Regions from separate parts of the Homo sapiens genome. Here region 2 is linked to region 1. Evidence: fine-mapped expression QTL. Tissue or cell type: whole blood. Region 1 holds a variant in brackets; the other region holds the start of a gene. All regions are shown on one strand. Distances are between the middles of the regions.

What was found. PIP is the estimated chance that this variant, and not a neighbour inherited with it, causes the effect.
Region 2: IGSF23 starts here. The variant in region 1 is fine-mapped to the expression of IGSF23 in whole blood (TOPMed, PIP 0.91).

The regions. Positions count from the first base shown.
Region 1 is chr19:44,578,224-44,582,612 of GRCh38, reverse strand. No RefSeq gene overlaps it. Among named protein-coding and RNA genes, the nearest start is that of IGSF23, 33 kb to the left of the region's middle. RefSeq lists an enhancer at 3,785-4,316. The variant G/T (reference allele first, on the strand shown) is at 2,176.
Region 2 is chr19:44,611,712-44,616,100 of GRCh38, reverse strand. It overlaps IGSF23 (immunoglobulin superfamily member 23), which reads right to left and starts at 2,538. Exons shown (of 5, transcript NM_001205280.2): 1 at 2,331-2,538. The coding sequence starts at 2,455. RefSeq lists an enhancer at 625-1,126.

The sequences.
Region 1 (4,389 bases):
CCTTCTCCTTCTCCTCCTTCTCCTTCTTCTTTTTGAGATGGAGCTTTGCTCTTGTCACTCAGGCTGGAGTGCAGTGGTGCAATCTTGGCTCATTGCAACCTCCACTTCAAGCAATTCTCCTGCCTCAGCCTCCCAAGTAGCTGGGATTACAGGCATGCCAATACTAATTTTTGTATTTTTAGTAGAGACAGGATTTCACCATATTGGCCAGGCTGGGTCTCAAACTCCTGACCTCAGGTGATCCACCCACCTCAGCCTCCCATAGTGCTGGGATTACAGACATGAGCCACCCCGCCTGGCCCTTTGATTCTTATCTTTGAGATTTCTTCGTTAACTAAGGGAGGGGCATCAGTGGGGATGGCTATTACACTTTCTGTGGGTCTCATCAGTAAAATCCCTAAATCCAGGAGCAGTGTAATGCAGTGGTTAAGAATGCAGGCTTTGGCATTAGATGTGGGTCCAAATACCAACTCCTCCCCTTATAGGGTGTGTGGCTGGGGGGCTTTTTGAGCCTCTCTGTTCTAGCCTGATGGCCATGGGGATGGAAACTTGCACTTAATTTGGATTCAACTGCTCAGTGCAGGGTCTCACACATTCATTCACAAAATATTTATTGAACACCTACCATGTGCCAGGCACTGCGCTAGGCTTTGGGCATTTACAAGAGTGAACAAAACAGGCAGAGGGGCCAGGTACAGTCACTTGCACCTGTAGAATCACCTACTTGGGAGGCTAACGTGGGAGGATCGCTTGAGCCCAGGAGTTTAGGACCAGCTTGGGCAATATAGCAAGACCTCATCTCTAAAAAAATAAAATAGAATTAAAAAAACCAGGTAGAAATCCCTGCCTTTAAGGGACTGATATTAGGGAGAGCAATCAACAAACACAAATCAGTGGAGAGTGTCACACGGCGATGAGTGTGTTGGAAAGAAATAAACCAGACAGGTGGGACAGGAAGTGCTAGGCTGTACACAGGACAGCCAGGGAAGGCCTCTCTGAAGAGGTGACATCTGAACAGGGTCCTGACTGTGGTGAAGGAAAAAGCCATGTGGCTATCTTGGGAAGAGTGTTTGGGGCAGAAAGTAAAGCAAATGCAAAGGCCCTGGGGCAGGACTGTGCCCTGAGTGTTGATGAACAGTGGAGAGGCCAGTGTGGCTGGAGAGCGGGGAGTAAGGGAGGAAGCGGGAGATAAGGGTGGGGCAGGGATGGGGCCAGACCATGGACCTTGCAGGCCAGTGTTGGGACTTAGGCATTTTCCTGAGTGAGACAGAAGCCACAGGAAGCCTCTGAGCAGGCAAGGGACATGAGACAACTTAGGTGTTAGCAGGAGGGCAGGAGCAGGGAGCCCAGTGAGGAGGCTACTGCAATGGTCCATGTGGGAGATGGTGCTGGTGTGGGTGGAGCTGGTGAGAAGTGGTTGGATTCTGGAGAAATTTGAACGCTGAGCTCAGGATTTGCTGTTGCATCGGCAAAGCTGGTTTCTCAGTAAATACAAGTTTCCTTTTCTTTCCAATGAGCCTCCCTGAAGCTCCTGAAGATTTTCATTTCCTGTCTCCCACCTGAGTCTTCAGACTGGGCCAGATATGCAGGATGAGACTTCTGGCTGAGGCTTGAGCCAAAGACTGGAATCCAGTCAGGGCCAGATTTCAGACTCCTTGTATGGTCCTGGGGGGATCACTTGCTCTCCTGGGGCCTCTGTTTCCCCATTTATACAGCAGGAAGCCAGGAGGGGAGCATGCAGTCCCCTGCCCTCCCACGTTTGCCTACCATGAGGATGATTGGGAAGAGCAAAGGGCACGAATGCTGGGCCAGAGACATGACCAAAGAGGAGAAGTTAATGAGACATTGAACAGTTGTAAACCGAAGAGGGCTGTGCCAGTCCCTCCCTGGCTGGCCACCAATGCCCCATGGGCACGGCCCTCATCATGGGGACAGAAGGCTGGGCCATCTCCTCTCTGGGCTAGGGCTCCGGGCAGGACACACAAATCGGCTCACTCTGGGGTTCTTGCAGTCTGTTCTCCGCAAACCAATGTCCTTCTAGGAGGAAGCACTCCTAAAGGACCCATGGCCCGGTTCCTGGTTGCTCCCCATGGCTGGGGTGAGCCCTGGATGGGAGCGTTGCTCGTAGGTGAGGGTGTGGCTGAGAACTGAGGTTGGGGAGGGCATTTCTCAGAG[G/T]TTATATCAGAGCTCTAGTCTTGGCTGGTCCCATTTCCAGCTTCCCAGAGCCTGCGTACCTGACAAATGTGCATTGTCCCAGACTCACTCTATTAAACAATCATGTCTTAAAGGGGAAGTTGCAGGGCAGGGAATCTTTGAGTAGGACAAGCCAAATTAATTTCTTGCTCCACCTCTGTCATCTGTGTGATCTGAGGTAAGTCACTTGACCTCTCTGATTAATTTCCTTATTTGCAAAATGGGGCAATGATTGTACTTCCCCTTCGGGCTGCTATGAAAATCAAAGAAACCCCATTTTGAGAGCCTGGAAAATAGTAGGCAGGAGGCTTTAGGCGATGATGAACAGAAATGATGAAACGATAAAGAAGGTAGGAAAATAGGATAGTCCCGTAACTGATGATACTCTCTGATACTTACCGAGCACTGAGGATGGGCCAGGCCCTGCTCCAGGAGCTTGACATAAACAGTCTAGTCCTCTCAGCTCCTCTACAAGGGGGCACTGTGAATTAATCTGCTTTGCATTGCTATAAAGGAAAACCTAAGGCTGGGTAATTTACAAAGAAAAGAGGTTTATTAGGCTCATGGTTCTGCAGACTGTACAAGCATGGCAGCATCTGCTCAGCTCATAATGAGGCTTCAGGAAGCCTATCATCATGGCAGAAGGTGAAGGGGAAGCTGAGTATCACCTAGTGAAAGAGAGGCAAGAGAGATACCAGGCTCTTTTTTTTTTGAGATGGAATTTCACTCTTGTTGCCTAGGGTGGAGTGTGATGGCACAATCTCGGCTCGCTGCAACCTCTGCCTCCCCGGTTCGAGTGATTCTTCTGCCTTAGCCGCCCAAGTAGCCAGGATTACAGGTGCCCACCACCAGGCCAAACTACTTTTTTGTATTTTTAGTAGAGATGGGGTTTCACCATGTTGGCTAGGCTGGTCTTGATCACCTCAGGTGATCTGCCCACCTTGGCCTCCCAAAGTGCTGGGATTATAGGCATGAGCCACTGTGCCCAGCCTTTATTTTTTTATTATTTATTATTATTTTTTTGAGATAGGGTCTCACTCTGTCACCCAGGCTGGAGTGCAGTGGTGCAGGCTTGGCTCACTGCAACCTCTGCCTCCCAGGCTCAGGTGATCCTCCTGCCTCAGCCTCCCAAGTAGCTGGGACTACATGTGTATGCCACCATGCCTGCCTAATTTTTGTAGAGACAGGGTTTCACCATGTTGCTCAGGCTGGTCTCGAACTCCTGGGCTCAAGTGATTCTCCTGCTCCAGCCTCCCAAAGTGCTGGGATTACAGGCATAAGTCACTGCACCCGGCCTGCCAGGTTCTTTTAAACAACCAGCTTTTGCATGAATGAACAGAGCGTGAATGCCTTCATTACCGCAAAGATGGCGCCAAAGCCTCATGAGGGATTGCCCCATGACCCAAAAACCTCCCACTAGGCCCACATCCATCATTGGGGATCACATTTCAACATGAGATTTGGAGGGGACAAACATCCAAACGATATGACACTGTTACTATGGGCCCCATTTTCCAGATGAGGATGGAGGCCCAGAGGCAGCACCGTATAGTCGCCGATGCCATGGATTCAGATTTGGCTCTGCAATTTGCACTGTGTGAACTTCAACAAGCCATTTAAACTCTCAAGGCCTCAGTCTCCTCATCTGCAAAATGGGTAGCTCTAACCCCTGCCTCACAGGGTTGTTGGGAGGTTCAATGAATTGCCATTTGTAAAGCACACAGAACAGTTCCCGGCACACAGCAAACGATTAATAAGTGTTTAAGAGAAAACAGGCCAGGTATGGTGGCTCGAGCCTGTAATCCCAGCACTTTGGGAGGCTGAGGTGGGCAGATCACCTCAGGTCAGGAGTTCGAGACTAGTCTGGCCAACATGGTGAACCTTGTCTCTACTAAGAATACAAAAAATTAGCCGAGTGTGGTGGTGTGCACCCATAGTTCCAGCTACTTGGTAGGCTGAGGCACGAGAATCACTTGAACCTGGGGGGCGGAGGCTGCAGTGAGCCGAGATCACACCACTGCACTCCAGCCTGGGCAACAGAGTGAGACTCTGTCTCAAAAGACAGAGAGAGAGAGAGAGAGAAGGAGAGAGAGAGAGAGAGAGAGAGAGAGAGAGAGAGAGAGAGAGAATAGCCAGAGATGTGGGTAAATTGCCCAGAGTCACAGAGTCACATAGCCATGTAAAGCAGGTGTTAGA
Region 2 (4,389 bases), 33 kb before region 1:
TGCTGTTATCAAGAGAACATTTTGTATTTACAGAGTTGAAGTTCGTTGCACTGTGGCTTTGTTTTCCTTTGGACAATGTTTTGTAAGCTCCCCCAGCTCACTTTGCAAACATGTTGTAAACCACTTTCTAAAAACTGGTTGCTGTTTTATCCAGTGGCACAGCCAATTTCCAAAGTACCCCACCCTCCCGCCCCCAGGAAGATCCAGCAACACACAGCATGCCGTGTTTCCATCACAAAACTACAGCAGCCTAGGAGAAACTTTCCAATCTCCTTTTCTTTCCTTCCTCCCCTCTGCCCTCCGCCCTGAGAGAGGCCTCAGACAACAGCTCTGACAAAATAGGGAAGAGGCCCACCACGTCCCTTTCCTCCTTCCAGTGTGACACCTGCCTGAGCTGGGGACAGAGCAAAGCTTTGAACTAGGTGGACTTTGAGGTTTTAAAATTACATGGAACTGAACTTTTTTTTTTTTTTTTTAAAGATGGAGTTTCGCTCTTGTTGCTCAGGCTGGAGTGCAATGGCACCATCTCAGCTAACCGCAACCTCCGCCTCCTGGGTTCAAGCAATTCTCCTGCCTCAGCCTCCCAAGTAGCTGGGATTACAGGCATGCACCACCACGCCCAGCTAATTTTCTGTTTTTAGTAGAGACGGGGTTTCTCCATGTTGGTCAGGCTGGTCTTGAATTCCTGACCTCAGATGATCCGCCCGCCTTGGCCTCCCAAAGTGCTGGGATTACAGCACTTTGTAATCCCAGCCACTGCACCCGTGAGCCACTGCACCCGGCTCAGAACTGAACTTTATTTATTTATTTTTGAGACGGAGTCGTGCTCTGTCGCCCAGGCTGGAGTGCAGTGGCACGATCTTGGCTCACTGCAAGCTCCGCCTCCCGGGTTCACGCCATTCTCCTGCCTCAGCCTTCTGAGTAGCTGGGACTACAGGCGCCCGCCACCAGGCCTGGCTAATTTTTTGTATTTTTAGTAGAGACGGGGTTTCACCGTGTTAGCCAGGATGGTCTCGATCTCCTGACCTCGTGATCCGCCTGCCTCGGCCTCCCAAAGTGCTGGGATTACAGGTGTGAGTCACCGCGCCCAACTCAGAAGTGAACTTTTAAGACCTGGATAAGGAAGCAATTCATTCACTATCTGAGAGGCAGATGTGTGTGGTCTCTGGAAAGTGTGGTCTGGGAAGCCAGCCCATCTGGCTTCAAATCTTCAGTCTGCCACTTCCAAGTGTGTGACCTGGAGAGGGCACATGACCTCTCTGAACCTCAGTTTCCCCTTCTGTGAAATAGGGATCGTACAGCTCTGATCTCAAAGAGTTGTGATAAGAGGTAAATGTTACTATAGGAAAGCACTTAGAACGGGCTGACAGGCTGGGCGCAGTGGCTCACGCCTGTAATCCTGGCACTTGGGGAGGCCGAGGCAGGAGGATCGCTTGAGCCCAGGAGTTCGAGACTAGCCTGGGCAACATAGTAAGACCTCATCTCTACTAAAAATAAAAAATTAGCTGGGTTTGGTGGCGCATACCTATGGTCCCAGCTACGCAGGACGCTGAGGCAGGAGAACAGCTTCAGCCCAGCAGGTTGAAGCTGCAATGAGTCATTATCGGGCCACTGCACTGTAGCCTGGACAACAGAGCAAGACCTTGTCTCAAAACAAAACAAAACAAAAAAACAAAAACCCCAAACAGGCTGGTATATAGATCTATTCAGTTACAGTGACCTTCTATTACGGCTGTTATTATTTTATGATTGTTATTATTTATATGTATTATTACTAAGTTGCGGATTGCAGGGGTGAGACAGGGCATTCTGGTGGAAGGGGGCTGGGCTGGGGTCCCAAATTCTGATCCTGCCCCTTGCCAGCCCTGTGATCTTGGGTAGGTGACCTGTTCTCCTCTTTGCGCCTCACTTCCCTTCTTCCTAAAAGAAGCCAATAGGGTCATCTCTTGTGGCGGAGTGGCCTTCAAGAGTTCTCATGAGTTGGGTGCCTGAGCTGCATGGGCCTCAAACTGACAGGGTCAAAGCTCTGAGTGGGGGTGACTTGGACTCGTAAGGAGACACTCTCCTCCTTGTCCCTGGCCCGTGGTGAAGCCGCTGTCTCCAACGCACCTGTTAAAAGCAGCTTCCTCCAGGTAGGGGTGTGGCTGGAGCTGACGTCCAGAGGACCCCTCATCTCGTGTTCTGTCCAGGGACTGTGCAGAGAAGGTCTCCTCATCACACATGGGGTCTTCATAGACCTGTACAGTCGCGTCTGCAGCCCCGGCCTCACCCTGCAGGACCCTGCTCACGATGACCATGCCCTACCCTGGCCACTTCCCCACATGACTTACACCAAGTTGGCTGGGAAGTCACCTCCAGCCGCATCCTTCTCTAGCATCGGGTCAGTGGTGGTGGTGGGTGGGGACCAGGCTGGGACAGGGTTCCTGGGAAGGGGGCTCTGAGGTTTTGCTCTCATTCTCTCACCGTACAATCCCCGCCGGGAGATGGAGGGAGAAGCAGAATCGCCCGCTCCTATCACTCACATCAAAGGCAAGGAATGGCCAAAGGTCAACCTGGTAGGAGGTGACGGGGCTTTGGACTCTGAACCACAGCTTTTCTCCTCTGTAAAATGGAGGCGTTAATAATAGTGCCTGCCCCAGAGTCAGACAGGGCCGTGGACACAAGGTGCTTGGAGTAGTGCCTGGTCACGTAGTAGGCGCTCAACGAATGGCAGTCACTATGAAGTCAATGCTAATTATAATTTGGTGTCTAGGATGTCCTGGAGGCATGTTTAGAATCCCGTTATCAGGAGCTTGCTCAGACTATATCCTGAATTTTAGATTCTAGAAGGATAAGCTACACTAGCTACTTTTTCCTCACCCTTCTCACTCCCCAGGTCCATTCTTTCCTCCTCAAATTAATAATTATATTACTCAAACTAATAGCTGGTGTTTATTGAACACCTACTATATGCCGGACACAGCATTAACCTTGTAACAGGGTTGCCTAATTTGAATCCTCATAGCAACCTCGAGGGGTAGATATGAGCATCCCCATTTTCTCGTGGTGCACAGGGGCTAAGTAACTCACCTACCATCACACAACCGTTCACAGGGGCTTTCTGCCAGTTTTTGGAGGCACCAGCTCAGGGGCTTTGCATGAGCCGTTCCCTCTCCTTAGAACCTTACTCATGTAATCTCAAAGCTGACTGTATCTTATTATTTTGGCTTAATTCACACACATCACTCTATCAAAAAGGCCTTTCTTAATGCCTGCTGCAACTCAGTTCCCCACCTCTTTGCTAGCAAGCCACACTGTTTTGTTTTCTTTACATCATTTACCGCTATTTTAGATGATTTATTTATTTGTCCACTTGTATTATCTGTCTCTCCCTCCTTAGTCCCACCTCTCCGACTTGAATATCAGATCCAGGAGGGCAGGGATGTTGTCTGGCTTGTGGCTATGTCCCTAGTGACTAGAACAGTGCCTTGCATATAACAGGTGCTCAATACATGTTTTTGTTTTTGAGACGGGGTCTCACTCTGTCAGCCAGGCTGGAGTGCAGTGGCACGGTCATAGCTCACTGCAGCTTCAACCTTTTGGATTCAAGCAATAATCCTGCCTCAGTCTCCTGAGTAGCTGGGACTACAGTCTCACACTACCATTCCCAGCCAATTAAATTTTTTTTCTTTTTGTAGAAATAGAGTTTCACTATATTACCCAGGCTGGTCTCAAACTTCTGGGCTCAAGTGATCCTCCTGCCTCAGCCTCCCAGAGTGCTGGGATTACAGGCATGAACCACCTAGCCAGCCTACATGTTTTCTTTTTAGTGAATAAATGAATGAAGAGCAAGTGAGTGAAATGGGAGTGTTCAGACTTGAACTCAGATCTTTCTGACTTAGAAGCTCATGCTTTTCCCTCCCAGAGAGGTTCAGGTTCCACCCAGGGGCTAAGGTTCACCCATAAGTCTCTAATAATAGTCATTATCAGGTGACACAGTTATTTCTTTATTAGCATTTGCTAAAGTGCCTTTTTTATAGTTGGTCTGAAGGCCTCTGCTGGAGTGATTAGCTAGGTCAGGAGACCACTGTAGGAAAAAGTAAATATTTACGATGCAGTTAATAACCATTATGTTGTAAGGTTTCTGGGGTTTCTACCCAGCCAGTACTCTCTTGTATCCAGGTAACAGCACCTGGAGTTCTCTTTTGGAAACCAGCCTCCTCATGGCTCCAGGGAGGTGAGGGGCCCAGGACTGGCCAATCAGAGCACTTCATCCCCTGACAACAGTGATTTTTGGAGACCTGGGCGTGGCACTCAGAACAGGCCAAGGAGAAGCAATCTCTTACGGATTTTATTGGAACTCTGGGGAATAAAGCAATTTTTCTTTTTTCTGTTTTTAAATTTTTATTT